Regions from separate parts of the Homo sapiens genome. Here regions 1, 2 and 4 are each linked to region 3. Evidence: fine-mapped expression QTL. A gene starts in region 3. Each other region holds a variant in brackets. All regions are shown on one strand. Distances are from middle to middle.

Region 1 (7,757 bases), 38 kb after region 3:
CTGGGACTTCAGCACAATTCACACTAAAGTGATTGTGAACACACTTTTTGGACTAGAGCAGGAGACTGGAGAGTAGATATCTAACCAGTTTGTCCCTTCCAGGGCAGGCCCTTGGTTTGGCTCTGTTGAAGACAGAGAGTTTGTAAAACTCAGTCTTACCTTTAGCATCTTTTCAACTCTTGGAGACAGGCTAAAAAGAGAAAGAAAAAGCAAAAATCCTAGCACTCATTCAAGAAACCTAGACTTAGAGATTAACTTGATGTAATGCAAATGATGTGACTAGTTTAACATTTCCTAATGACCAAAGGCACAGAGCAGCATCTGGGAGTTGCTATGTTTTCTCCTTCCTCCCCTCAGTGGACTGATTTTATTTTTAGTGTCCAGGGAGATAATACAGTTAAATTTGTTGGGCTAGGAACAAGGAGAGTACGGGTTTATTAACTTCCCTTCCCTCCTTCTCTCTTGCCCTTCATCCCTCTCTCCCTCCCTTTCCCACCTTTGTCTCCTTCCTTTATTCTTTCCTTTAATATAGCCACTCATTTATATATTGATTGATTCAGCAAGTATTTATTGAGTGCCCACTACATGCAGATAATGTATGTGATGCTGGGTAAACAACGTGGGAGGAAAAAACTTGAATTGATCCTACTATGACATAAATTAAAGCCTCGTTGTAGGGGAGCAGAAAGGAGGAAACAGAAAAGCAAGCAAAAAATAGAAATTGCAGGCCAGGTGCGGTGGTTCACGCCTGTAATCCCAGCACTTTTGGAGCCTGAGGCGGCTGGATCACCTGAGGTCGGGAGTTCGAGACCAGCCTGGCCAACATGGTGAAACCTCGTCTGTACTAAAAATACAAAAATTAGCTGGGCACAGTGACGGGCGCCTGTAATCCCAGCTACTCAGGAGGCTGAGGCAGGAGAATCACTGGAACGCAGGAGGTAGAGGCTGCAGTGAGCCGAGATTGCGCCACTGCACTCCAGCCTGGGTGACAGAGTCAGAGCAAGATTCTGTCTAAAAAAAAAAAAAAAAAAAAAAAAAAAAAAATTACAAATTGCAAATTGTGAAAATTCTACAAAAGTATTATAAAGGGCACATGAGATTAAGGGCTTAATTATATAGGATGGTTGGCTGAGACCTCTCTGAAAAGCAAATATTTAAAGGAGACTGAAAGAATGAGAAATAGCAAGCCATGGGAAGACCATGAGGCAGGAAAGGGCTGGGTGAATTCAACAAAATGGAAAGAGTCCTCGTGGCTGGTACAGAGTGATATAGAGGGAAAGTGGTCCAAGATGGAGTTGGAGAGGAAGGCAGGTGGTAGATCACATGGGCAATCTGCTTTCTGTCTTAGTACCTCAGTTTCCTTATCTGTGAAATGATTTGTTGGGCTGCATTGCAACCATTACCTACTTTGTTGGTCATTTAGTATTAAGTGTCAATCCTCTTTTACCATGGGTTTCAAAATCAAAATTTTCTAGTTCTTTGGGTGCTGAAGATGTCATCCTAGGCACTAGGACCTAAAGATCTGCCTAGTTTAGGTGGGAGGAAACTAAAATGCCTAAAGCAGGTTTTATCAATCTTGGCACTATTTTGGACCAGATAATTTTTTTCTTGTGGAGGGTGGAGGTAGGAGAATGTCCTCTGCATTGTGGGGTGCTTAGAAGCATTCCTGCCTCTGAGCACCAGATGCCAGAAGTTGGGTGACCCAAAAATATCTCCAGACATTGCCAAATGTACCCTGGGAGACAAACTCTCCCTTGGTTGAGAACCACTAGTTTACAGGGTGAGACTGTAGCTCCAATGAGCAGGTCTGGCATGAGATGTGAGATGGAACCTAACATATAGCCTCAGTGTTGGGGAAAAAAGAAAGCAAGGCAGGAACCACAGAAAAGAAGTGGGCACCTGCTCATTTAGAGGGGGCATATGGTACTTGCTCTGGCTGGTTCTTTTTTCTCCTAAGACTTGAGGTACTCACAATTAGATTGTCCATAATCTTTGGTTCGTGACACACTCATATTATTTGCCCATGTTGTGTTGCATTAATTTGGTTAGCTACTTTATTAGTTCTTTATAATAATGTGCTGAACCCATCACCACAAACAAAAGCTAGGACTTTGACAATAATCTGCATGTAACAGTATGGCCTCTCATTCCTCTGCCTTTCCCCAACAGAGGCAGCCACTGTACTAAATCATGTGTTCATCATTCCCTTGCTTTCCTTCCTATATGGTTTTCTTTTATCTAGATATATCCCCCAAATAATTGAAATGCTAGCAGTTTTTAACTTTATAAAAAGGTTATGATGCTATTACAATCCTTTGCACTGACTTTCTTCACTTCCTATTCTATTACTAAGAGTCATCCATATTGATGTGTGTTGCTGGAGCTCATACATTTGAAGTGCTGTATTAAATCTCATTGTGTGGACACACCACAGTACATCTCACTCACTGATGGCATCTGGGTTATTTTCTGGGTTATATTACACATGGTTTTTTTTGCTCTCCAACTGATTACTGCAGTGCAAGAATGTGGGAACAATATTGTCACCATTTTAATTTATTTTAAGGAAAAAGTAGAAATCTTAATTTTTATGTGAAAATAACTGGGGGACAAATTTAAAGTTTTAAGAAATACCTAACAGGTAAAAAAGAAATGAGACTGTAGGTCATTCCTTTTGAGCCTCCAGTTTAAGATTTCTAGATTAGGTCATTCATGTTGAGAATTTTTCACCTGAATCTATAAGTCAAATTAACTTGGAAGAAACTTAGAAAAATGTTCTTTAGTATTTAAGAGTGGCAAAGAAGAAACTGTACAGAGGCAAGGATTTTAATAGGTGTCCAGATTGGATGAGCAGCGAGGTAAATCCATTGAAATGCATTCATTTAAAACAGTCGGTTGTAGGCCGGGCGTGGTGGCTCCCAGCACTTTGGGAGGCTGAGGCGGGCAGATCACGAGGTCAGGAGATGAGACCATCCTGGCCAACACGGTGAAACCCCGTCTCTACTAAAAAAATACAAAAAAAATTAGCCGGGCGTGGTGGCGGGCGCCTGTAGTCCCAGCTACTCGGGAGGCTGAGGCAGGAGAATGGCGTGAACCCGGGAGGCGGAGCTTGCAGTGAGCCGAGATCGCGCCACTGTACTCCAGCCTGGGCGACAGAGCGAAACTCCGTCTCAAAATAAAATAAAATAAAACAAAACAGTTGGTTGTAGTGCCTGGAAATTACAGTGAAGCATTCGCTTCACACCCACCTACTCCTGTTGTCCCAGTGTTATTATTAATAGCACCCCATTCAGGTGACAATTTATATGGTTATCTCTCCATGTAACCCTTTATTGCTCTAACCTTGTTTAATCTTAGCTGTTTGTGTGACTCTCTTCTCTACTAAACTAATGAGCTCCTTGAGACTGGAGATATTGTCTTATTTATCTCTGCGTCTAGCACATGCCTGCCATTTGGTGGACATGTAACAAACATTTGTTAAATTGAACTGAAATAAAAGAATAAAGAAGAGCATAGGAGTAGAAATGGCCAGCCCACATCATCTTCCATGTGCTGCAGAGGTCTAGACTGGAGGCCCAGTTTTGAGTTAGTTATGAGCTTTGTGGCTTGGGAAACTAATTTAATCTTTTTCAACTAAATGGGAGAATATGTATCATGTGCTTAGTGAAAGGCTATTAAGTGCCCAATAAGTGTTAGCTGCTAGCACTGTTATCAATAATTAGTTGTTAATAATCACTATTATTACTATTAAAGGTATTATAGTAACTTTGAACTTTAGTTTTCTTAATGGGGAATTAAGATAATAATTTTTGTTTACTTTATGTTGGCAATGAACACAAAGACACTTTGGAAACTGTAGAGAGCCCTCACTGCGTAGCCCAAAAAAGAATGCATAGTAACAGAGAGGTTTTTGCTATAGAACCGAGTAACTCAGGCATATTACATGGGGGCTCAACTGACTGGCAATATAAGGAAACTTTTAAATATAATATTTTAAAAAGATGAAAAAATGGCTGAGTCGGAAGGTACAAATTGATCTATGCCAAAGTGTTGAAACATAGAAAAAGCACATGGGAAAGAATGGTAGCTGGACTCAGGACAAGTAAGGAAATTAAGACTAGGGCACTGCTCTGTGTGGGATTAAGAGAGCATTGCTGCCAGTGTGTTGAGGGGACAGAGCCATTCTAGGCTTGGCATCTGGAGAGCAATGGCTTGAGCTTGGAGCAGAAGAGTATTCATGTCAGAATCTACATTCTACTTTGCAAAATTAGTTAAGAGATTGTATTTCTGAGTTAATGAGAACATTTTATCAGTTATGCCAAATTTGGACAATGCCTAAGAAAGCCATTCGGCACCTGTATGTGTTGCTAATAGTAGAAAGGAATCTAATGTTTACACACAAAAGCAACCTTCAGCCAAGCATCACAGAACCTTTCCTGGCAATGTAATCTTTATCAGGTGAGATAAAGAAGTTGATAGATTTAAAGTTTTATGTTCCAACTCCCTTGTTATCCTAAGAGACAATTCTAGCAA[G/A]AGCAGAACTGTTGACACTAGGAATTCTTGTACCTAACTGCCAATAAACTGGTGGATAGAATTTCAGGTCTATTTCAGAGACATGTGATCAAGTAATAGCAGCAACAGCCGTAGTAAATGCTTACATAGGGCAACAACCCTGTCATGTGGGTGCTATTACTATCCCATTTTATGGAAGACAAACTGAGGAATAAAGAGGTTAAATAATGTACTGAAAAATCACACGCCCAGTAAGTGGCAGAGCTAGTCTCTGAACCCAAAGAGTCTTGGTCTGGAGAATGTGCTTTTAACCAGGACACTCTACTACCTCTCAATTTTAGCTGTCATAACCAGTGTAAAGTATACCCATGACTTTGTGGGATAAAGTTGTGGGACTAAGACCATAAACTTCAGGGATGGTTTTCTATTCTATCTCAGGATTTCCTTGGAAGGAAGACGTTTGTCTAGATTATATATTTATTAGAGGTGAGACTCTTATCTTGTCTTGTATGTATCCTCTGGGGTCTAATAATATCCTCTCATGACGCATTGGTGCTCAGTAGAATGAGATGAAGTAAACCAAATAGTCCCTATGGTGTTTTCCTCTTGACATAAAATTGTTTGTTGATGAATGAGGAAGGAACATGGGAAGGCACAACTCTACCCCAAACTCCCAAGGGCAAGCTGGCATTTACTTGTTAATCCTCTTATGGTCAAATACTTTCACCCAATCCTGACTCAGATTTCAAGGCCTGGTTCTTTTCTCTCCCTCTCCTGTGTCTGCTGATCCCAGCCAAGGGAATCTCTTGGTGCTGCTGTCAGCTCGCCAGCTGACAGACCTGGATTGGAATCTTAGCAGTGGGACATTCTAGCTGTGCGGCCTTGGGCACATCATCCCATTCTGCCACTCTAAGCTCAGTCCCACCATGTATGAAATGAGGATGATTATCTCACTTCAGGGAAAACACAGGGATAGGCATGATTGGGAGAGTTAAACAAGACAGCACATCTAAACACCTAGCACAGTGCTTGGCACAGGGTATCTAGGTGCTCAAATGATAGAAACTGATTTCCTAGTTAGACTGTGACTTCCTTGCTTCCTGGGATCATGTCTTACACTTCTTTGTCAAGATTTCCTCTCCACTCTCTCCATGCCTCACCCTGCCCTCTCCTCACCCTCCTCAACTCCTTCACTCTGCCCCCATTTCCATCACTAAAATCAGTATTTGTTCATTTATTGTTTATTGTGCTTAACCAATATTTGGTATCATTTTGATTCTGTCCCAGGAGATATTTGGCTATCGGACTCAAGGCTGCCGGAAAAGTCTCTGCCTTGCCGGATCCATCTTCTCATTTGGAATCCTCCCCTTGGTGTTTTACTGGAGACCAGCATGGCACGTATGGGCACATTGTGTCCCATGTTCCTTGCAAGAAGCAGACACTGTGTTGCTGAGGACAACGGTAAGTGTGTACCTGGTTATGTCGCTGGTGCCCCCCTTTTGTTTCTGGACAATGTGTTACGGGATGGCTGGGGGGAGATGTGCACAAGACAGATAGCAGGTGGAGGCTCCAGTCTTTGGTTCCTTAGGTTTCATCACAGCCTTGCATCTAGCAGGATTTCACTAATTTGTGTATGGTCAATAGCAAAGACATGGAACAAACCTAAATGCCCATCAGTGATAGACTGGATAAATAAAATGTGGTACATGTACACCACGGAATACTCTGCAGCCATAATAAAGAACGAAATCATGTCCTTTTCAGGACATGGATGGAGCTGAAGCCATTATCCTTAGCAAACTAACGCAGGAACAGAAAATCAAATACCGCATGTTGTCACTTATAAGTGGGAGCTAAATGATAACACATGGACACATAGAAGGGAACAACACATACGGGGGTCTGTCAGAAGGTGGAGGCTGGGAAGAGGGAGAGGATCAGGGAAAACAATTAATGGGTACTAAGCTTAATACATGGGTAACAAAATAATCTATACAACAAACCCCCATGAAGCAAGTTTACTCATATAACAAACCTGCACATGTTCCCCGATCTTAAAATACAAGTTAAATTAAAAATTGTGGATGGTGAGGTTTGATCAAGAAGAGCGATTTCACAAGATATTTCTTTTAAAGTTGTGAGTTTCGTGAATGCTAGAGCAGGGAACAACCACATGTTAATAGCTAAAAATAACAGGAAATGTGAAGTAGTCAAGTCAGGCTATAGGCTACTAAGTTCACACTGACCGTTCCTCTCGATTCCTGACATATCCCACTCCCTGCACTGGAGTGACTCCTGAGGAAAAGAAGGGAAGGGGTGGGGAGCATCACTCTGAGGAGGATGCTGTCTGTCCCAGCTGATTGATGAGAGCATGTCACATTCTGCAGATACACTAGGGTAAAAAGTGCAGCCATCTTGCCCTTGAGGCCATTGCCTCTCTCTGTTAATAAAAGCCTCTGGCTTTGGGTGAGTTTCCCTGTATTTCCTTCCATACCAATTCCTTGCAGCACTCATGGCACTCGGACAATGTGCATCATCCCTGCGGGACTGTCAGCTTCTCAAAGGAAGTGAGCATTTCTAACGTGTTAATTGCTGCACCCCCAGTTCCTGCATGTGGTAGCGATTCTGTTACTATGTGGTGGCTGACAGGCTGAAGTGGATGTTTCTATTAAAGAGAGTGGAAGGACAGTCTCCTAGAGGACTCTCTTCTAGTTGACTTTTACTGAGTGTTTATAAGAATGCATCAGCCCATGGCCCCGAATGACAACCAAATTGTTGATAAATCAAACTCTGTTGGGAGTTTAGCTTCCTTTTATATATTACAATCTCTCTAGATACATATTCTATTTAATGCAGTAAGAGAGAAGGATAGCAATCAGCCTTATAACTGGCCAAAAAGAAATCTAACAGAGGTGAGGCTAAACTCCAATGAAACTGAGAACTGGAGGAAGTTGGTCTTTGTTGACTTGCTCCATTGGGGCCAGCCTCACCTTTCATTTCTGGATCTTGGTCCCTTCAAGAAATACTTGTTCTATGTTCTAGCTTAGCTGATATGTGAGCCATGATACAGGTAATAGCTGAGGCATCTTCTCACAAGTTCAACTATAATTTTACTAGAGACTCTTGGAGAATAAGCTTTAAGACTTTAAGGAAGCAAGAGGTTATTGTGGAATAAGAGCAAGTGATATTGGTGATGTTGAGCTGGAGCTGTGCTTCGTTGATGCCTCGTGTCATCCTTCCTGAAG
Region 2 (7,757 bases), 52 kb after region 3:
TTCAGCATGTCTGGGGAGGCCTCAGGAAACTTACAATCATGGTGGAAGGGGAAGCAAACACATCCTTCTTCACATGCTGGCAGCGAGGAGAAGTGCCAAGCAAAAGGGTGAAAGCCCCTTATAAAGCCATCAGAGCTCGTGATAACTTACTCACTATCATGAGAACAGCATGAGTGTAACTGCCCCCATGATTAAATTACCCCCCACTGGGTCCCTCCCATGACATGAGGGGATTATGGGAACTACAATTCAAGAGGAGATTTGGATGGGGACACCGCCAAACCATATCACGAGATAGCTTGCTTCATTCAAGTCTAAAAGTTTATCTGGCATTTCCAGGGTCAGAAAGTACAAAACCACAGGAAATAAAAAATGTCCAGGTTTCTCCCTCTGTTTTTCAGTCCAGGTCAAACACTGGTCCTTTGTATACATTCGACTTTTGAAATGCACTCTTGAATTTTTGTAAAACCTATTTTTTTAGAGTTCAAGGACTGATCCGGTTAATATTTTTGATAAAGAGGAGGTAAAGCCTTCTCAATGAGACCTGAGGTGTAAAAAGTCCAGATTTGCCAGGCAAGCACTTTGCATTATTTGCATTATAAACCAATTATTTAAAATGGTAGCTCCTCTGGTACATTTAAGTATTTTACAAATCATTACCTGCTTTGAAGAGAGCTGGGAAACAGACTAAAGTAGAAGAAGCCATTTACAGGCAAAGATGCTGCTTTTCCAAAAAGGAAAAATTGAGAGACTTTTAGAGTTTCCTCAAAGGGAGAATAAGTTCCTACTTACAGAAAGAACTCAGAAACAACATGCTATGAAAAATGAGGCACAGAGCCATACCATTTGTTGCCTCCCTGCTATGGGCCAAACCTTAGATCAGACACATTATGTATACTTCATTTAATCCTTCAAACATCCATGAAATTTGGTATTACTTCCATTTTCTAAATAAAGAAAATTAGCTTCAGACAGTTGTAAGACAGTTTAGAGCTGGGATTTGAGTTCAGGCCTCAAGCCTGTGCTCTTGCCATATTGGACAACCCCAAAATGAAAACTGAGAAGTCAATGATTTTGCCTGAAGTGACCACTTCACACTGGTGTACTTTCCTTCCATTTCTTTGCTTTTTTTCCTTAAAAAGCTGGGTGATTTGACAGAGTCCTCAACAGGGTAGTATACAAGAGAGAAGTCAGTGTCACTCCCCTACTCTAAGCAAAAGGGTCATCTAGCTGTCCTATCTTTTATTTTTTCTACTTTGTATCATACAGAATTATGTATGATACATAATTAGTAGAATTATTTTATTCTACTTTGTATCATACAGAATTATGAGTATTGGGATTGGGAGTAAATGGGGATGTTAGGAAATGAGCTTAAAGGCAAATATATCCAAGTACCTTTGATTTGATAATATTATGAGCTATAAGAAGAGATAGGTGTATAGATGAATGTCAGTTTTTAATACACACCTAGACTAAGGCATACAGTTAGTTGGTGCACTGGATTAATATGGCCTTTGAGAACCTGGACACTTTGCTTTTCCCTCTTTAGGCATTACAGTCTGGAGGTCTGTCTGCTGTCACACAGGGCCAGAGGGTGACAGCTTGATTTCAGGAATTAGATTCTATGCTGTCAGGAGAGCAGAGATTGTGAGAAACTGGATACTATTTGTCAGTTGGTACAGAATTCAAGGTGATTTTTACATGCAAGCCATAGACACCATGGGACAACTTGTTGAAATAAAGAGGAAGGGACCAAGATTTGGAATGGAAAGATCTGGACTCAGGTCTCAGTTTTATTCCTACTACCAGTTTCAGACTGGCTTGAGCAATTCTTAGCCTTGCTGGTGGTTAGTTTTCTCATCTGCAAAATGGAGATAATTATAATACCAACACTGGAGAATTGTAAGCCTAAAATAAGATAACATAACAAAATTTCTACAAACTGCTATGTAATCATATGAAAATTATGAAACTGCTAGGTAAACATATGAAAGTTGTTAATATTATTTTAATTCACTGGAGACGATTAATAGTTGCTGTCTTCCTAATTGTCCCTACTTGGTGGCAAGAGGTCTCTGGTCTTGATGGCTCTTTTATAATTTGTGTTCCTATTTACCTACAAATTATACATTTTCTTACCAAATTTTTCATTGAAACTATGTTTTTTAGAAGTTCCAGTTCAGGCTCGACATAAAAATGGCAGTCCAATCAAATTATATTTTTTAGCAAAATGTAGAATAAAGTGGAAGGTTAGAGGGGACTCTGGAGGAGGCAAGCAGGAGTGGGGAGGTGACTGTTAAGTGCCTGCTCTAATAGTTACCAAGTATGTCTTTCTTTCCTTGCCAACTAAATGGGAGAATAATTAACTGTAACAATTCCATAGTGTTTTTGACATTAAATGAAATAATACATATGTAGCATTATGTGCTTAGAACATAATAAGTGTGAAATAAATATTAACTGTTATTAGAAATGGAAAGTTCTTACTTAAAAACTGCTTTGATAAAGTCAAAAGCAAAGCTATATAATGCTGAACTGTGTCAAGGTTTGTTCAAGAGAGTTGGTTGCCTACTCTACCATACCTAGACCATGTCTATCATCAGATCGGTGACTTAGTCATTGAAAATTTAGCTCCCTTCCACCATTCTTAGGCTCATCATTCTTAACTCCATACAATTTGATTTGAATTGATTTAGTCACCTTTTTTTTTAAATCCACAGTGTAACAGCCAATTACATTGGCTTTTAAAATTGATTAATTAATTAATATTCCAATTTCTATTAAGGTTATTTTCCCCTCTTGTTGGCTTCCTTCCCTTCTTCATCTCTCTTTCTCTCTCTCTCTCTCTCTCTCACACACACACACACACACACACACATGCACACAGAACCTGTGCTAAGCCTGGCTGAAGTGCAGACATGCATCATACACAATTCCTACCCATAGTCCAAGAGAAGTGGTAAGGTGGATAGGCAAAGGGTAAAATGTGGTAGGAATCTTGAGTATCCTGATGATTTAGAGGAGAGATCACCCAGAGTAATTAGGGAGGTTCTCAGGACATAAACTCTGAGCTGGACCCTGAAGGATGGTAGAATCCAGCCATGTAAAGACTTAAGGAGAAGAGAGAAGAATGTGTACTACAGGCTAAGGAAGCAGCAGGAGCAAAGGCATACAGACGGTCTTCTCTTAGGAGGATGAATATAAGAGATTAGCTACAATGATTGTATCTTCCCCTCTCTGCCTTTTGCAGAGTCAGCTAGGGCACTCTTCATAGCAAAAATGGGTGTGGTGGTGGAGACAATTTCCAGCTCTGACCTACATTTCCCAAGCATCAAATTTTTCCCACGTTTGACTTTTTCTGTTATACTTCTTGAATCCTGAGGTTTGTCAGTCATCTGAGTGGGTTTTATGTTTAGTATTTCCCTATTCAGACAATAACCACTGTCAAATAGGTCTCTAAGGGACCATTGTGGTATCTGTTTCTCAATCCTGTGCTTCTCCCTCTAATTTTACTCTGTGTGAAGTAATCAGTGAACTGCAAATGGAAGCAATTTTAATTAGGGTCATGCAATAAGGTGCCTTCTTCAACCCCACCTGTGCTAACATCTTGGCAATTACCTTGGGCAGGTTCAGTCCATGGATTCAGTTTTTTTCTTCCATTCTTCAGACTCTGACTGAGCAGGTCTCAGTGCTCCACATGAATGGGAGATAAGGAACAATAAAACGTGATCCCTGCATTCCAGGTAGTCTAGAAGGACTAGAAAAAGTGATTAAGAGCACAAGAGAGGGACACTTAACATTTTTTTGGAGTTAACAAAGTGATAGTTCCCCCCCCTGCCCCGCCCCGGTGGAAGGGTGTTAATGAGGCTGTTCTGTAGGAGGTGGAATTTGAGTTAAGCCTTGAAAGATGGGGATGGTCATCAGGTCATGGGCTGAAAGGTGGTTGAAAGGTGATGCAGTGAACTAGTTCTTACCTGCGAATGAGCCTCCTGATTCTCAAGCTTTGTTATGTGTC[A/C]GTGCCTCATCTTCATATCCAGATTCCTCAGTCAGTGATGACAGGTCTTTTTCCCTCAAGGTTCTAGATCCATCATCTTTCAGAGACAAACCGTTCTGTCTAGAATATTCACTAACGCCAAACACTTACAGAATTATATTAAAATGATGTTTCTCAGGTTGAATTGTAGCCTGCTGACCTCTCTTAACTTCTTGGGGGTTTTGATGTCTATCTCCTCAGGATGAATTCCAAATTTACTCTTGGAAAAAGGTAATATGGATCTACCTGTCAGCATTAAACAGCGCATTTGGTCTCACTCCTGACCACCCTCTCATGACAGATGAGGAGTATATCATAAATAGAGCCATAAGAAAGCCAGACCTAAAGGTAAGTAAACTTATGGCTACTGCTGATGTCAGAGAGATTTAATCTTTTTCCCCTCAAGTATATAGTTAAATGTAGCTCCTCTACTGTGCCAATCCTCATTTGATAGTGTATATTTAAAATGTGAACTTTGGAGCCAGACAGTCCAAATCTCAGCTTGCTCCTTCTAAATAGCGCAACCATTGATCTTAACTCTGCTGAGCCTGTTTTCTCATCTACAAAATGATGATAATAATGTCTATTTCTAATATTAATTGATAAAATTCAATAAATTTAGAAATACAAAGATTAAAGTAGTTCCAGGTATATAGCAGATGCTCAATACATACTCGCTCTATTTTCTTTTCCTTTTGTTAGAGGTAGGATCTCACTATGTTGCCCAGGCTGGAGTGCAGTGGCTATTCACAGGTGCATGATTATAATACACTACAGCCTCAAACTCCTGGGCTCAAGTGATCCTCCTGCCTCAGCCTCCCTAGTAGCTGGGATTGCAGGCATGTACCGCCCAGCCCAGCTCTTACATATTAGCTCTAATAGTATCGTTCCCCATATTACAATCTATGTAACAGGGTTAATCTTATAGTAAAAGTAATCACCCAGGAATATCCCAGGAGGTTTGCTTATGCCTACAAAAATGACCTTATTTGAATTCTTGTCATTCAAATGTATTTGGGTTGCTCCCTCTTCACCCTATTAAATTAGTTCTGCTTGGATTATGACTAGTTAACATTCATATTAAAAACATTTTATAAGACAGAATGTTTTGTCTTACATTTATGTATGTGTGGTCAGCTGTTTAAATTAGTTTTATGAGCTCAAGTTCAGTTATTTAAAGTAATAAAGTAAATTATGAGCAATTTTCCTATTGTCAATTGTTATCACCCAGTTGTCTTTTTTTTTTTTTTTTTAAATGGAGTTTCACTCTTGTTGCCCAGGGTGGAGTGCAATGGCGCTGTCTTGGCTCACTGCAACCTCCACCTCCCGGGTTCAAGCAATTCTCCTGCCTCAGCCTCCAAAGTAGCTGGGAATACAGGCACCTGCTACCACACCCAGCTAATTTTTGTGTTTTCAGTAGAGACGGAATTTCACCATGTTGGCCAGGCTGGTCTTGAACTCCTGACCTCAGGTGATCCACCAACCTCAGCCTCCCAAAGTGCTGGGATTATAGGGGTGTGCCACTGCACCCCACCCACTCAGCTGTCTTAGCTGCCCAAATAAACAAAAACAAAGGAGGTCAAGTACCTCCAAATAATAGTTTCCCTAATCTGTTAGATGTCCATTCACCTGGAGAAATAAGCTTCCCAGATAGCCTATGTTCTCATAGTTTTATTGCTCTGAAATTCTAGCATCTTTAGTAGCATCAAATAAATAAGTGGACAGATAAATGAAGAAATGGCCAAGTCAACACACAGAATTGTAGGAGGGGCAGAGGTCTTGAAATGGAAAGTTGTGATAGGTGTACTATCTTCATTTACCAGCTACGGCATAGGCAGTTTGGTTAGTTACTGCCTCTCTGGTCTTGAGTTTCTTATTTATAAAATAAAAGTAATACCCCTTCTTTGCCTTTCTCAGGGCTGTTATGAACACACAATGAGACGATGGATATTAAGGTCATTTGTGAACTTCAATGAGCTATGCTAGTAACAAAACTTTCCTTAAAGTCAGAGGAGCTGTCATGGGCTCAGCCTTGATGACAATAACAGCATTACCAAGAGGGTAACCATTTAGGGGCATTTAAAGGAGGGGTCCCCAATCCCCAGGCCACCGATTGGTGCCCTGTCCATGGCCTGTTAGGAACCAGGCCACACAGCAGGAGGTGAGCTGCTGGCAAGCCGGCGAGCATTACCTCCTGAGTTCTGCCTCCTGTCAGGTCAGCAGCAGCATGAGATTCTCATAGGAGTGAAATCCTTAATATTGTGAACTGCGCATGTGAGGGATCTAGGTTACGGTGCTCCTTATGAGAATCTAATGATTGCCTGATGATCCGAAACCATCACCGCATCCCCAAGATTCGTGAAAAAATTCTCTTCCACAAAACCGGTCCTTGGTGCCAAAAAAGGTTGGAGATCGCTGGTTTAAAGGAAGTCTGAAGACTACAGCAAAGAACTATGTCAGGTTTGGAAACAGGCTAAGAGGAGATGCTAAGGACCATCTTGCAGGATTACAGGCAAAGCTAACACCCAGTGCTTAACTTGTTAAACAGGATGCTCTTATAACATGTTCTAACAAGAAATTACAAGCAGAAAGCCCGGGGAGAGGAAATCTTCCTTATTCCTGAGCAGAAAGATGAAATTCACCCCGCAGCAGATACTTGGTTTCCTAATTGCTGTTTCCTGGTCTGAATTTCCAGGAAATAGGCAAATAAACCTCATCTCTTGCAAATATTGTACTTAACATCCTCTTACCAGCTTCCAGAGGCTCTGAGAGTGATGGGGGAAGCAGATAAACTCCTGGCAGAGATGTTTTCTCCTGCGGGAATCTCAAATATGCTCAAAAGGTCTAGGATGGAGCCATTCTTCTCACTCTGTGAGAAATGGCTTAAGAAATTGTCAGAAGATAATGGAATTTTCTATTTTCTGGCCTGAGGTAAAACTTATCAGTAGCCTCTTTATTTCTCATTATTGCTGCGTTCATCTACAGATGTTTCATGTCTATTATGTTTTATACATTTTTCAACCTCAGTGTGTGGTTTCTGCCTCTTGATAAGAGGTTCTCGAACTGATCAGGGGCCTCACATTGGAACCACAATTTGTCCTTTAAAATATTTCTAACACAGATTTTTGCATTTATATAATTAATAAGTAGATAGCCATCACTTTATACAGCTTGAATCCTGAAGTCAATGGATTTTCAGATTTTCCTTTGGGACTAGCTTGAATATGATATCCTTTGAGAGATTGAACTCTGGAGCCAGATGGGCTGGAGTTCAAATTCCTGGGAAGTTACTTAAGCAAAATGAACTTCAGGCGCAAAGTGAAGAGGAAAATAATATCTGCCCTACCACAGGATGATGGAAAAGACTAAACATAACGTGTGAAAAGTCCTAACATGCCCAAAAAATAGTAGCTGTGATTACAATCCTGCTCTATTTGCAAAATTGCAAAGAATACTGAAGAGAAAAGTAAATTGTGAGGCAAGATGCTTGAGATTTCAACATGTGTCATGATGGCTAACACACCCTAGAGCCTGTCATTTACAAATATTTCCTTTGCAGATTGTGAAATCTGCAAATTAGAGAGAGATTGTGTGTCATTCCTACTGGAAATTCACTCTAAATCGGCAATAAGATATACTTTTTAAATGCATTATGTTTCAATCAACCTTGCTGAAATAAATCCATTCTGTAAAATAAAAAAATACAGCATTTTACATGCTA
Region 3 (7,757 bases):
TTCTCAGATGAAAGATGGAAATTAACATATAATGAAACATTATTACCATTTATCATCACAAAACCTAAATGGGCCAGACAAGTGAAGCATCAGCATCCCCACGGCCCTGGCAGAGAAACCGGTCCTGCCATTATTTCCATTGGACATCTATTCTAGACAATCACAGAGGTTGAGAACTGCTCAGAACAACAGGCATGCTCCTAAGATAATCAAAAGCAAACCGAGATGCCAGATCAGCAGAGGTAGCTAAGTATTTGTCCTTTTTATTTTCCGTTCCCATTCTTATTTGGGAGAGAGTATTTGAGAAAAAATGAGTTCAGGGAGAGAATCAGAGAATGAACGAAGGTACTTTTCCTTTTGGACATTCCTCTCAATTCTGAGATATCAATATATGTGTATAATTTGTAGCCCCCAGAATGGGCTGTGTGCGAGCCCTCATCTGTGCTTTTGCTCTCTGTCTCCTTTGTTAATAATGCTTTCCTTTCCCACCTGTATTTATCTAGACAAGCATAAAACTCCTATCCTTGTGAGGGTTTCCTGGCCTAACTCCCTACTTGAAGTTCCTCTGTCACTCTTGTGTAATTAGCATATTATGTGGAATTTATATTTTGGTGTTGGTCTTGTTTCTTAATGGACTTAACTTTTCTGGGGCATAATTTATTAAATCTCTATTCTTCATCTATTACAGATCTGGGCATACTGAAGTTAATCAAACTAGTGCTAAGTGAATGAGTGAATGGAATCCTTCAGGAAAATGTCAAGATTAGAATTCAGACCACACCAAATCCTCATCTGCCATTCTTACTACGCCACATCACAACCCGTGAGGCACGTAGAGTATAGAATAGAAATATTGAACAGGCACAATTAAGGAAAGGGAGGGTGAATTCAAGAATAACTTTTCAAACAATGTTCCTAAGAGAAATAGAAGACTTAACTTAGAAGGTTCAAGAAAACTGTCTACATAAATACAGTATTGCATAGAAGGACTGAGTCGCTTTGGACCTGATTCCTATAATATGAGAGCACAGGCTGATCAGGAACAGTAGGGATATTTATGGAGTTCAGTTTGCCTTCCATGTTATTGTCACTCTGTGCACTAAGCTCAGACTCAGACCTGGCATTCAGGACCTCCATGCATGGCGTTGGTCCATATTTCCCTGCCACATGTCACTCCCCTCTTCTTCCTTCATGCAGCCCATGCTGCAGTGAGGCTGATGGGCTTGCTCTGAACATGACCATGTGTTTCTTCCTCTGATGATTCCCTTGCTTCAAATGCTCTTTCCTGCGGCCTTACTCTTTGTCCGAGCCTCAGCATCTCCACCTGTTGAAGCATTTTTGGCTCTTTCCAAGGCCTTTCTCAAAATGCTTCCTTCACAAAGAGGCTTTTCTGGTCATATAAATGCAAACCTCTTTGCAGAGCACTTTGGATGTGCCAAATAAATGTGTAGAAGAGGTATTAGTCCAGTAACTAGGATCACGGATTGGGAGAGCTGCATTGCCTAGGTCCGAATACTCATTCTGTCACTTACTAATGGTTTGAATGTAGGCAAATTACTTAATGTCTGCACCTGTGTTTCCTTGTCTGTCAAATAAGAATGACCAGAATAGTATCAACCACAGAGGCTTTTGTCAGGATTGTGTGCAACAGTGAGTGTAAACTGTTTAGAATTGTGCCTCATATGTGGAAGTGTTCTGTAAATGTTCTCTTTGCTTTCCCACACAACCTAGCCCTGTTTCTGGTTATGGTTATGTTTGTAGACCAAAATCACTAAATGAGGGTGAGTGCTGTCCATAAGCAGTGTTGCCATCGATAAAATCTAGATGTTTTACCAATAGAACTCCCAAGGAACCTGAGGAAACTCTCTCACTACTGGAGTCCTCAGCTCTATTGAACCAGGTTTGTGGAAAATAATTTTCCATGGACATCTGATTTTTATAAAAGCTTTTAATGTTCTTAAGGACTTACATATTTTCCTGTTCAAGTTTAGCTTAAATATTGTAGCAGCATGACCTGATTTATTTGATGGGGTAAGTTTGTGTACAGTTTCTCCTCTAGCTGTTAATCAGTTACACACTCATCTCAATCCCACAACGGTGCAAGAGTTGCCAAGTGCATTCAGGAACCCAGCCAAAAGGAAACTGCAAATATTGCCAGTGATAAACAGGAGAATGAATTACTTCTTTCTCACCTGCCCAGGAGCACTGATATAGTTTCACCACGTCACATACTAACACTCCTCAACCTCCATCAGTTGAGATGAAATTTGGAATATGCTTGTTTTATATTTTTTTCTGTACTAAATATATAATTACTGCCTAGTAAGGCTGTTAAATGTTCAGTTAGGTTTTTTTGAGGTATAATTTTTTATTGAGGTATGATTTTTAAATTTGTTATATCTCTTCATTGAGATATAATTCACATTTCATAAAATTCACCCTTTTAAAGTATAGAGTTCAGTGAGGTTTAGTATGTTCACAAATTTTTGAAGCCATCAGTAGTTCTAGAACATTTTTATTACCCCCCCCATAAACCCTTTACTCCTTATATTTTGACCTTGTGATAAAATGTTAATTTTATTTTCATTTATTTGGTTAAATTGTGCTAGCAAATTTTTGAAACCAAGAGAACTACATATATATATACACACACACACACACATACACACACACGTACATATATATTTTGTAATTACTATTACAATGGGTTTACTTAGCTTACTTTTTATGTTTATCCTATACTTCACTATTTGCTCAAGGTTTTACACATACAACATATACACACACACACATGCACACATTGATCTTGGTCACATTAGGGTTATTTGGGTCAGGTTGGAGATATCATTGCCAATGTAGCTTGAGGGACAGACAGTGGACATGGTGAAGGTAAAAATAACTATCTTTTGTGGAACACCTATTATTTCCCAGGCACTCTTTCTTAAAAGTCTGTTTTAGGACGTAGGTTCTATTATCATCATCTTTATGTTACATGTGAGGAAATAGAGGAGAATGGAGTTTGTATAACTTGTTATATCCCAAGGTAGCACAACGACCACCTAGTACAGTCCAAATTTGAACTCAGGCCTTCCAAATTTAGTGTATATGCCCTTAGCCACTATGTCCTAACACCTACTGTTCAAATGCACATTTAGTTTAATAATCCTAACAGCACTTGATCAGTGCTGTACAATGTACTTTCACAATGATCTCATTCCATTCTCTCAAAAGTCCTGTCGGGCGGTACCAGATGAGAAGAGCCGGTTCCTATAGTTAAATGATCACACAGCAAGGCCAGTGCAGACAAGCAGCTGGAATACAGGTATTTTGCCAGAGCTAGGGTAGGGGTGTGTTTCTCTACACCACATTGGGACTTCTGACAGTTTTCTTAGACTTCTGTTCCATCTCTTATAATAACAATCCACTTTCTATCATATTTGTTTGGATGTTTGAATCCTTACATCAACACGAGGGTAGCAAATATGACTTAACTTTTTTAGGTAGTCCCTGTGCTCAGGCACTGTTTATTGAATAAATGTGTAAACAAATTAAAAAAGAGTCTGGCCATATAGTCATTTGAATATTTTATTTCTAGACTTCCTTAAGTGTTGAACCATCAATATTTTAGTGAAAGGAGACTACATAGACTAGTTTGATGATACCTTTGTTCTTTTTCTACATGTGTTTCAAAAAAGTAAACTTAATTTCACATACACTTTAAATAGAATTTTTTTTGCATATACAAGGAAATGTGATTACAAATACCTTTTGAAGAGGATTAGTGATAATCTGTACCTTTTGTAAGCAAAATGAATGAGAGTACTATTAGAAACCTGTGGATTGAAGCTTTCATTCATCAAAGAAAATCTGCAGCTCTGTGCGCTTCCGCTCAACCCAATTCCTTAGGTCCTCTGAATAAAGCAGTGACCTGGGAGTTCTTGCACCCGCTCCTCACTCCTGAGAAGGGTCCTGCCAACTCTGTATTGTCCTGTTGGATTTGCAGTCAGAAGTCTGAGGCTGGCAGGCACTGGGCAGGCAATGAGTTCTTTCCCTGTAAGTTGGGCACAAAAAGATCGGCATGGGAGCAGCCTCCTTTGAGACAGCTGCTCTGAGAGAATGCAATAAGCAGGGAGCAGCCAGCAATTCCTCCTAGCAGAGGGCGACTCGTGGGAGGAGTTCAGTTTGCCAAGTATTGTCATTTGTTGAGAGAAGGTGTGTGCTCAAGGAGGAGTTTTAACCTGGAGGATCATTAACTCTTTTAGTCAGCTGAGGAGCTGCGGTGGCTCGGCGAGTTGGAGTTCATCCTGGAAGCGTCTGCACGACAAGGTCAGGGAGGAGGTGTGGAATAACTTTTTCATGGGACACTTTGAGAAGGGCCAGCACGCTCTGCTCAATGAAGGAGAAGAGAATGAGATGGTAAGATTCTAGCCACATTCCCTTCTTCCCATCCCACTTCTCAGCCTGCGAGACACACACACACACACACACACACACACACACACGCACGCATCACACACACACAGACTTTTCTAAAATTTCACTCTGGTATTACACGAGAAAAGGTCATGTTTGAGAAATCTCTCTATCCTGTAAATATAACCTCTGACAGCAGAAATTTGCTAGAATGAAAATATTGTATTCATCTTGTCAAGAATGTTTTCTTTTTAAAGAAAACAGAGAGGGAGAGAAGCACCATGCACTTTATGATTCTTGTTTGAGCCTCATTGGTATAGCCAGTTCTGTTCAAAACACCTAACAATTTTAGGAAATCCCTAATGTGAGGAGCAGTGTATTCCCTGATAGGAAGAAGCAGAAGTTCAGCAGTGAAGCAGAAGTGCAGCTGGGTCTTTGACCTTCTCTTCTCAAATGTCTTGTTCACCGAGTCTGTTGGACAGGGAAGACATGCAATATTAACAATTATCAGCCTACACACATTTCTGTTTTCTTCTAGAATTTTACTTTTGTGGCTTCCTCATTATAGAGATTGGTTACAGAAAACTTTCGGTAGTTCAGTATCTCTTTGATTTTAGATGTGCTTCTATCTTGAGAACTATAGGAAAATCAAAGATGACTTTCATGCTCAGGATGAATTTAAAACTGTATTTCTCAATTACAATATAATCAAGAGAGAGTTAGAAATATGTACTTCTGTTTAATAAGATCTTTCTGCTAATTGTGTAAGCATAGTCTTTTATGCCAGTAATGATGTAATTAAAATGTTAAAATGTGACGCTCTCATTCCATAATAGCATTTAATCTTCCTGGAATTAATATGTAAATAACAAACCTGAAAGATATTTACTTAAAATGTTTTCTTGGTTAATTGCTTTAGCCCTGACTATTACATTCTTTGTTCCTAAACTGGTCTTTCAAGTCTAATCTGCTTACCTGTTCCTATAGCAACAACATTTTTTGGACTTTCAAGAGTAGATCCCTTCTGCTATCAAAGCTGAAAAAATTATAAAGAAGTAAAATGTACATTAATTCAGGTGCCTTTCTTAACCATATCCTTTACTTCATTCAGATTTGACTGCCAAATGAATTGCCTTCAGCCCCTCCACAAATGTCACCAGAAATGGCTTGCTAGCCCACATTGGATATCATCTTTGTTTCTTTAAAGAGTTTTCTTTAGGAAGTGAATATCTCATTACTCTCGATATTAAGTTGAAAAGTTTATCTTCATCTTGAATACTCTTCACCAGAAGGCAGGGGCTCCTTCCTCTGAAACATTTTTTTTCTCTCTCATTTAGAAATACACTCACTCTTTTCCAGTAAACCCCTTTCTGCTCTCAGACAATTTGTCTTTCAAGTCTCAATAAGAATCATTTATTTTCCAGAAGACATTCATGGTTGTAGGGAAACTGTTACCTCTTCCCTAGCATACATATTCCACCAAAGCAATTTAGTTAACAGTTCATCTTCATAATGGCACCATCAGATGCATGGAGAACTCCACGTAGTTTTGTATGCAGCTGAAAGCCCAGTTAGGAGAGGCCCTTTAATATGGAAAGGGACACTGTGTTTTCTGGTAGGCAGCCATTTGGCCAGTAGTCTCAGCAGAGGTGCAGCAATTAGTATGCACTCCTGAGCTCTCCATCCTCTTCTGCCTACAGAAACCTGGCCACCTGCCTGTTGCTGTGTCTGACACTGTGTTCCTTTTTAACTCACTCCTCCATCCCTTGCCCAGAGCAGTAAACTTTAAAAATTATCAAGCTATATATATAGTCTACATATTTTGTAGTGATTTTTAGTATACACAGCATTTTCTTGGCCACTAGCTAATTTAGTTTTCCTCACAACCCTATGAGGTAGATGCTGTGATTCTAACTTTAAAGATGAGGAAATTGATGCACACAGGCTTTCCCTAAGGTTGCATCAACCAGTAAGTCCAGGAGCTGAGGCACCGCACAGGTTAGTTTAAGTTGACAGCTCTTTTGTCTCTGGACCTGAACATAGCCCACTGATACCTTTTCCAGTTCTTCCGGAGAACATTCCACTCTTAACAGAACACATTCCCTTCCTTCATAAAACAAAGCTAAGGAGAACATCAACATCCAGTCTTCTTAGATTCCCCAGCATCTGTTCTGTTATAGATAATTTGAGTTTCTTTTTTCTTCTAGATAATTCGAGTAGCTTAAATAAGTCTGTCTTCTCTGACTTCCAAGTCCAGAAATGTGTCACACCAAAGTGTTTAGTTTCATGCTTTATAATATACTTTACTTGAACCTTTGCAAACGTAATTTCTCTTGTGGTAGAAATTACTTCAAATTTCAAGAGAAAACAACATGCTAGGGTTTAGACCTCATGTCAAATAAAGAAGAATATTCTGAGGCCTAAAGATGCCTGGGATTATCTTCCATTTTGGAGTTAAAAAACCAAAAACAGGCTGGGCATGGTGGCTCGTGCCTGTAATCCCAGCACTTTGGGAGGCCGAGGCGGGCGGATCACCAAGTCAAGAGATTGAGACCATCCTGGCCAACATGGTGAAACCCCATCTCTACTAAAAACACAAAAATTAGCTAGGCAGGGTGGCGTGCACCTGTAGTCCCAGCTACTTGGGAGGCTGAGGCAGGAGTATGGCGTGAACCTGGGAGGCAGAGGTTGCAGTGAGCCAAGATCGCGCCATGGCACTCCAGCCTGGCAACAGAGCAAGACTCTGTCTCAAAAATAAGTAAATAGATAAAAATAAATAAATAAACAAGTAACAAACCAAAAGCAAACAGGAACTAAAGAGCAACCCTAGGTGACCTGAAAATAATATCTTTAACTGCGAAATGAGACAGGACCCAAAGGTAGAAAGAAGCTTTTGGAGGGAGAAGGAAGGAAAGGTGAGAAAGTGGCCTTCAGCGAAGGTTCACCTAAATGACTGCCTCAGAAAGGCTTCGAGGAGGAAACTCTGGGAGAGCACTGGGACGGGACGGGAGGCCTGGCTCTCACCGGCCTTGGGCCAGCCGCTTGCCTGCTCTAGCCTCAGTTTTTATACCTGTAAAATAGGACTGGTCCTTCTTACCCCCACCAGACTCACAGAGTTCTCATGAAGATCAGTGGAGATAATCCATATAAACATGTTTTGAGAAGTAAACAGTTCTGGCGAGGTGTGAGCTGCTATCATCTAAATAAAGGTAGGAAAAGCCAAGGGCTTAGCAATTAACCAATTGAGTAAATACTATCCCACAAAAATGAGGTCATCTCTTGCCATTCAGTTATACCAAAAGGAATATGTACTTTTTTTTTTTCTTTTTGTTACACGGAGTCTT
Region 4 (7,757 bases), 140 kb after region 3:
AAACCAAAAATACACAAATATCAGCATTTATATTTGCTGATAGCTGATATAGTTACCTTTACTAGACATCATTATTTCTACGTAAGTGTTTGAGTAGCTATCTTGTATTCTTTCATTTCAATCTGAGCCCTTTAGCATTTCTTTTAGGGTAGGGTTACTGATAACAAACTCTTTCAGCTTCTGTTTATCTGGGATGTCTTAATTTCTCCCTCGATTTTGAAGGACAGTTTTGCCAGGTATACAATTCTTAGTCAATAGTTTTTTTCTTTTTCTTTCAGCATCTTAAATGTTATCCCTTGACTTCTGGCTTCCATGGTTTCTGATGAGAAATTGGCTGCTAATCTTACTGAAGATCCCTTATAGGTGATGTGTCACTTATCCCTCACTGCTTTCAAGATTCTTTGTCTTTGTTTTGTTTTGTTTTTTAATAGCTCAAATATGATGTCTTGATGTGAATCTCATTGGGTTTGACCTATTGTAATTACTTGTACTTCTTGGATATGCAGATTTATGCCTTTCATCAAATTTGGGAAGTTTTCTGCCATTATTTCTTATTCTTTTTGTCTCTTTCTCTTCTCTCCTTCCGATACTCCCACAACGTACATGTTGGTCTGCTTGTTTGTGTTATACATGCCCTTTAGGCTCTGTTCATTTTTGTTTATCATTTTTTTTTCTGTTCCTCAGGTTGGATATTTTCAACTATCCTACCTTCAAGTTCACTGATTCTTTCTTCTGCCTGCTCAAGTTTGCTGTTGAGCAGCAAACTGCCTGCTCAAGTCTGCTGAAGTTTGCAAGTTTGCTGTTTTCACTTAACTTACAGTACTTTTCAGCTTCAGAATTTCTTTTGACTCCTTTTTATAATTTTTATCTTTTTACTGACATTCTCATTTTGATCATACATTGTTTTCCTAATTTCCTTTAGTTCTTTGCCCGTGGTTTCCCTTAGTTATTTCAGCATATTTAAGATAGTTGTTTTAAAGTCTTTACCTAATAAGTCTAATATCTGTGCTTCCTCAGGGACAAATTCTGTCCATTTATTTTGCTCTGTTGAATATTATAATGCTCTAACTCTGAAAATTAGATTCTTCTCCTATTTTAGGGTTTGAATTTTTTGTTTCACTCTTTGTTGAAGGCTGTAATAGTCCATTTGTTTAGTGACTTTCCAAAGCTTTTTTTGGAAAGACTGTACTAGTTTTCATGTGAGATCGCATATGTCCCTGTTCCTTCAGCTTTTGTTCAGCTAATGTTTTGATAGAGATTTGCTTGACCTCTAGGAGTGAAAAAACAAACAAACAAACAAACAAAACCTTCTCCAGTCCTTACAGATTATTTCTGTGCTGGAGTACTTATTCAACACTTTGCCAGGCTTACACTGAGTCTGGAGATAATCCAGAGCTGAAGGCTTTGGGTTTTCTCTGGTCTTTACTGAGCATGTACTATGCCCTGGGATGCACATAGCTTTTGCCCTGGGCATTTACATAGCATTCTACATTTCCCAGCATACACAGATGCTTTAGACTGCCCTAATTCCTCCAAGGAAATTTCCTTAGCTTTTCTTCCAGGCTTTAGATGGTTATTTTATGTATCAACTGTAATTTTTTTGCCCTAGGCAACTGCATTTGTTAGCCTAATAATGTTTTCAAGCAATGTGCACTGCTTTTCTGCCCAGAGTGAGTTCTGTGTTAGGTGGAACAGAGATGAGTGCCTGCATCAATCCTTCAGGTAGTTCCCAGACAGGTTGGGACAGACATATGTAACAATTTGTAAATAAGGCCTGCTATGCTCCTTTTGTAACCAGGGACCAGGGTCTCCCTCTGGGAATGCAGGCTATCTTCAGGATTGTCACTAAGCTGAGTAGGGGGTGGATCAAGTGCAAGTAGAAATGCCACAAAACTTTCCTGTGATCCTAAAGTTGTCTTTTTCTTGATTCAGTGTTCACTTGGTTGCAGTATACTTTTCTGTTTTTCAGATTTTCAGATTTCTGACAGTTTCTGCTTGTATTTTGATATTTCTGTGGAGATGTGGGAACTTGGAGCTGCCTACTTCACCATTTTGCTGGATATCACCTATTATTTGTCATTAAGTGTTTTAAAGCATTGCTGTTTAGTGACTACATGTTGTTCCATTGTATAGATGTACCATAACTTATTGTAAATGATGCCATAATGAATATTTTTTCACATCTCTGATTAACTTTTTTAGCTTAGGATAAATTTCCAAAAGTAGAATAACTATGTCGAAAGTTATGAACATTTTTCAGTCTCTTCACATTTATTGCCAAATTGCCCTGCAGAAGGTTTGCATCAATTTATTTTCCCACAAGCAATATATGAGAGAGTATATTTCATCCCTCCCTTCTCTGTAATTTAATAGTTTTTCCCTATTTATAAGGCCAAAAGTGACATCTTGTGGCTTTGTCTGCTCTTTTAAGAATTCTTTACATGACTTGAATTTGAGTCCATTAATTGTTTTATTCCCTCAGTTTGTGATGTACTCCAGTTTGTCCATTTCCTCAAATGTATGGGCCAATGAACTTATGCCATTCTTCTGATCAAGAATACATTTTCCTGCTCTCATAAATATAAAATTCGAATTTATTTTATAGTGAATCTGAATGGTGCCTACCCTAAGCTGGTGCCTTTCAGACCTGCAGGACGGCTGATCTCTCCACCTCTGCTACTCTCTGTGATTTTCAACATTCTTCTCAGCCTGGCCATGCATATTGCAGGCTTCATCCTGGTTCAGAGGCAGCCTTGGTATTCCGTGGAGATACACAGGTATGAGTATAGTCTCAGCTTCTGCTTCTCACATTCTAATTTCTATCAAACATCCTCTGGCCAATATGATGGGAGGCACATGGGTCTTCATTCTGCCAAAGGTTTTGGCTTTTTAAAGTCCCTTGGGCAAATTTTCAGTGATTATTTCTTCTCTGTAGCATGATTTAATGCTAATGAATGTATCATTCATTCATTAGCACTTATCTTTGTCTGTCTTATATGATAATGATCTATGACCATCTTTGATATCTAGGGTGACCATGGATTATAATTTGCCTGAGCAGCCCCAGTTTAAGTAGCCCACTTTAAATTAAGTGATGTCCCAGTGAAATTATTAACATCTTTCCTTTTCACCTTCAAAACTATCTTTGTTAGTTAAGTTATATATTCAACTCACTTACAAATTATCAGAGATTTGTTGTTGTTGTTTATCGGGGGAACCTGCCCCCAATATTTCAACATAGGTTCTAATTTCCCTAAGTGTCTGCTGGCTGAGAAATAAAGAGAAAGAGTACAAAGAGAGGAATTTTGCAGTTGGGCCTCCGTGGTGACATCACATATCGGTAGGACCGTGATGCCCATCTGAGCTGCAAAAACAGCAGGTTTTTATTAAGGACTCCAAAAGGGGAGGGGGTGTATGAACAGGGAGTAGGTCACAAAGATCACATGCTTCTGAGGCCAATAAAGATCACAAGGCAAAGGGCAAAGCAAAGATCACAAGGCAAAGGGTGAAATCAAAAGCTCCTGATAAAGGTCTATGTTCAGCTGTGCATATATTGTCTTGATAAACATCTTAAGCAACAGAAAACAGGGTTCAAGAGCAGAGAACCAGTCTGACCTCAAATTCACCAGGGTGGGGTTTTTTCCCCCATCCTAATAAGCCTGAGGGTACTGCAGGAGATCAGGGTGTATTTCAGTCCTTATCTCAACCACATAAGACAGACACTCCCAGAGCGGCCATTTATTGACCTCCCTCCAGGAATGCATTCCTTCCCCCCAGGATATTAACTATTAATATTCCTTGCTAGGAAAAGAATTCAACGGTCTCTTCCCTACTTGCATGTCCATTTATAGGCTCTCTGCAAGAAGAAAAATATGGCTCTATTCTGCCTGACCCTGTAGGCAGTCAGCCCTTATGGTTGTCTTCCCTTGTTCCCTAAAATTGCTGTTATTCTGTTCTTTTTCAAGGTGCACTGATTTCATATTGTTCAAACACACATGTTTTACAATCAATTTGTACAATAGTGGTCCTGAGGTGACGTACATTCTCAGCTTACGAAGATAACAGGATTAAGAGACTAAAGTAAGACAGGCATAAGAAATTATAAGAGTATTATTTGGGAACTGATAAATGTCCATGAAATTTTCACAGTTTATGTTCAGATATTGCAGTAAAGACAGGCATAGGAAATTATAAAAGTATTAATTTTGGGAACTGATAAATGTCCATATTAAAATGAAATCTTCACAATTTATGTTCCTCTGCCAGAGCTCCAGCCAGTCCCTCTGTTCAAAGTCCCTGACTTCCTGCAACAGTTGTCGTTGTTGCTGTTATAGAGATGGAGTCTCTCTCTGTTGCCCAGGGTGGAGTGCAGTGGTGTGTTCTAGGCTCACTGCAACCTCTGCCTTTGGATTCAAGCAATTATCCTGCCTCAGCCTCCCCAGTAGCTGAGATTATAGGCACATGCTGCCATGTGCAGCTAATTTTTTTGTATTTTTAGTAGAGATGGTGTTTCACCATGT[G/T]GGCCAGGCTGGTCTCAAACTTCTGGCCTCAAGTGAACCACCTCGGCCTCCTAGGGATTACAGGTGTAAGCCACCACACTTGGCCAAATTATCAGAGATATTAAGCCACTTGAGGGAGGAATCATGATTTACCAATCTCTTTCCCATATAGCCTTAATGAATGTGCATAATTTGTTGAATACATAATTGGCTGAATCTCTCTCTCTGTCTCTCTCTCTCTCTCTCAATGTATCCAAAATACGGGTCTATCTGTGCTTGTTGATTTTTTCCCCTATTTTTCAGTGTGTGTGTGTGTGTGTGTGTGTGTGTGTGTGTGTGTGTGTGTGTGTTTTCCAAAGCACAGGCAATTGTAGAAGCATTGAGTGCCTGCTCTGGACACTGTTTGGTATGGAATCTTCTGGATACAAATGCTCCATAAAGCCTTGCAATCTTACTTCATTAGCTTCTTTGGTTTTCCCTTTTAGTGCCTGCACAGTACAAAATGAAAGCATCTCAGAGTTAACCATGTCTCCAACTGCTCCAGAAAAAATGGAAAGTAATAGCACCTTCACAAGTTTTGAGAACACTACAGTCTGGTTCTTGGGAACAATCAACTGTATCACTGTGGCTCTTGTGTTCTCTAAAGGAAAACCATTTAGACAGCCAACTTATACAAACTGTGAGTAGAACTGTACTGCATCAGAGGTGAGAAGTCATCAGAGAGGGGAACAGACATGTCCAGGTCACTTAGGGAACAGCTTTAGAGTTGATTCTTATCTAGCATCTCTTGACTTCCACTCTAGGACTCTGCAAAACACATCGTACAGCCTCATTTTCACGGTTCTTTGCTCTTTCCTTCAAAGCTACATTAAATACTAGGGCTTCTTTCTCCCTTTCCTTCGCCAGAAGTTTGCCTCTGGGTGTCTTTCTTGGGATCACTCCAAATTGAAAAGACCAATTTATTTCTCTACTTGTCAGTACTTGTCAGAATTCACCCTGGAAACAGTGGAGAGAAGCGTAACAGAACTCAAGTGGATCCTGTCTCTTGCCATGAAGGCAATAGTCAGGGTGGCATTGTGTGGTGGCAGGCTGCTAGTGGGTCCAGCCTGGAGGAACCTGACTAGAGAGGGTTATGGAGGCTCTCGGCCAGAGTACCTCCCTCCTACTTCCTTACATTCTGGAGTAGGAAGGTATGTTTGGATGAGAAATGAGTGACCTGTTTAATCTTCAAGACATTTATTTGTATATCATCACTACTCTTCTTATTGAAAAAATTCAAAGCCCAAATTGAGTTCCTTTATGAATATTTTCATAAAAATTTATTTGTTCAGAGAAAATTATTTAGCTTTTCTTCTTCCTGGGATGAGGAAGCAGCTAAATACTGACCTCTATATGATAACAATTTAAAAATTGGTTTATTGACAGGCTTCCTTTTTACCAGAAAATGATTTGAGGTAGATAATTTGCATTAAAGTGACTCAGATACTTGGATGTCTTCAAGGCATTTATTGAACATGTATTTTGTCAATGTTACCCTATGTATATCTACTACTTTTATTAATTGAAACTTAAAATGTGCATGTGAAAATTTTCACTTGCTTCAAGGACATGCATAGAAATTAAAGAGGTGAGACCCATTGCTTAGAAATGAATACTTTCCATCTAGTATTTGGATGTAGAAATCAAGTAAATTAAATCAGTGTTAATCTAGAATACATCCGTCAATATATGTGACATTTTTCACTCTGATTTCTCAAAATAATACCTTGTGTTCTTATTTCCTCAGATATATTTGTCCTTGTGCTGATAATACAGCTTGGTGTATGTCTATTCATTCTATTTGCTGATATACCAGAATTATATAGACGTTTGGATGTAAGTCTAATCTTTGGGATATGATGATGCTTTACAGTTATGTAACAGTTTAACTTTAAAAAGCAGATCACAATTTCAATTGACATGATTTTTGACACAAATTATTCTTTTGGGATGGCAGAGCTAAAAAAAATGCTAAATTTATCTATATTTTTTATTTAAACTGGTCAAGAAATAAAATTCTACCCAGTTTTGATTTCATGAGATTAAAGACAGCCTTTAAGTATTGAATACTTTAATTTTGTTTTCTTCTTATTATTTAAGAGACAGGATCTCACTTTGTTGCCCAGTCTGGAGTGCCATGGTGCAATCGTAGTTCACTATAGCCTCAAATTTCTGAGCTCAAGCAATTCTCCCACTTCAGCCTCCCGAGTAGCTAGGACTGCAGAAGTGTGCCATGATGCCCAGCTAATTTTTTAAAAAAAAATTTTTGTAGAGATGAGGGCTTGCTATGTTGCCCAGGCTGGTCTCAAACTCCTGGCCTCAAGCTAGCCTCCTGCCTTGGCCTCCCAACGCGCTAGGCTTACAGGCTTAAGCCACTGCATCTAACCAAATATTTTTATTTTAAAAGATCTCCTATGAGAAAATGTTTTTCTATATTTTCTCTTTCAAATATGAGAGAATTTTTTCCTAATTGCTTCTTTTTTTGAAGTTGTTTAAAACTGTTTTGCCTATAGCTTTTTTTTTGGTTATCATATATTTATGTATTTTTTTACGGCTTTAAAAATGTTTTCTGTGTGTTCATACTTAATGTCTGTAAAACTCACTTTCCAAGAGCCATATTTTTCCTCATAAACTCTCTTATATTTTATAATATTGATACAGCTGTAAAAACCTACAAGATACCAAAAGTTTACATATCCAAGCCAGGGAAAAACATATTTTGATCCCCTTAACCTATCCTACTTTTATTACAATTTAATCACGGCTAAATGATCTTTAGATCAAGAAATGCAATATTGAAGAGATGACTAAAGAAACAGCTCTTTTAATTGAGTGCTTTGTATATCTGGTTGCCTCTCCATCTCAAAGATGAGTCTCATGAGGTCCAACAGTGTATCTTATTCATTCTTGTATTACCAGTGCCTTCCACAAAGAATGTCAAAAAATGACAAAGGAATGACTGACTGATCATTGCGTATCAGACTCCTAAATATAAACAAGCACTTAGAGCATACAGTGCATTCCCAACCAGCAACACCTGCACAAACCCACAGTGACATTTGGCATACTAACTAATATCTTTAGTTTGACATACTAATATGTTTAGCATGAGTCTTCTTATTTTTGTAACTACATCACTGTGGTTAGCAGTGTAATTACCACTGTTGTTAAGTGCCTTCGTGAATTAAATTAAGTATTCATGGAAATAAGTAGGCTTTG

Evidence for each region. PIP is the estimated chance that this variant, and not a neighbour inherited with it, causes the effect. A credible set is the group of variants that fine-mapping cannot tell apart.
Region 1: its variant is the best candidate, but not a certain one, in a credible set for the expression of ATP13A4 in sun-exposed skin (GTEx, PIP 0.72).
Region 2: its variant is the best candidate, but not a certain one, in a credible set for the expression of ATP13A4 in unexposed skin (GTEx, PIP 0.63).
Region 4: its variant is the best candidate, but not a certain one, in a credible set for the expression of ATP13A4 in lung (TOPMed, PIP 0.60).

The regions. Positions count from the first base shown.
Region 1 is chr3:193,512,914-193,520,670 of GRCh38, reverse strand. It overlaps ATP13A4 (ATPase 13A4), which reads left to right. Exons shown (of 30, transcript NM_032279.4): 2 at 5,800-5,973. Among named protein-coding and RNA genes, the nearest start is that of ATP13A4-AS1, 36 kb to the left of the region's middle. The variant G/A (reference allele first, on the strand shown) is at 4,534.
Region 2 is chr3:193,499,120-193,506,876 of GRCh38, reverse strand. ATP13A4 (ATPase 13A4) reads left to right here. Exons shown (of 30, transcript NM_032279.4): 3 at 4,238-4,384. Among named protein-coding and RNA genes, the nearest start is that of ATP13A4-AS1, 50 kb to the left of the region's middle. The variant A/C (reference allele first, on the strand shown) is at 4,019.
Region 3 is chr3:193,551,399-193,559,155 of GRCh38, reverse strand. ATP13A4 (ATPase 13A4) reads left to right here and starts at 4,261. Exons shown (of 30, transcript NM_032279.4): 1 at 4,261-4,416. The coding sequence starts at 4,357. ATP13A4-AS1 (ATP13A4 antisense RNA 1) reads right to left here and starts at 5,943. Exons shown (of 2, transcript NR_121666.1): 1 at 5,869-5,943; 2 at 3,572-4,386.
Region 4 is chr3:193,409,599-193,417,355 of GRCh38, reverse strand. It overlaps ATP13A4 (ATPase 13A4), which reads left to right. Exons shown (of 30, transcript NM_032279.4): 26 at 2,606-2,777; 27 at 4,985-5,178; 28 at 6,286-6,374. Among named protein-coding and RNA genes, the nearest start is that of ATP13A5, 35 kb to the right of the region's middle. The variant G/T (reference allele first, on the strand shown) is at 4,521.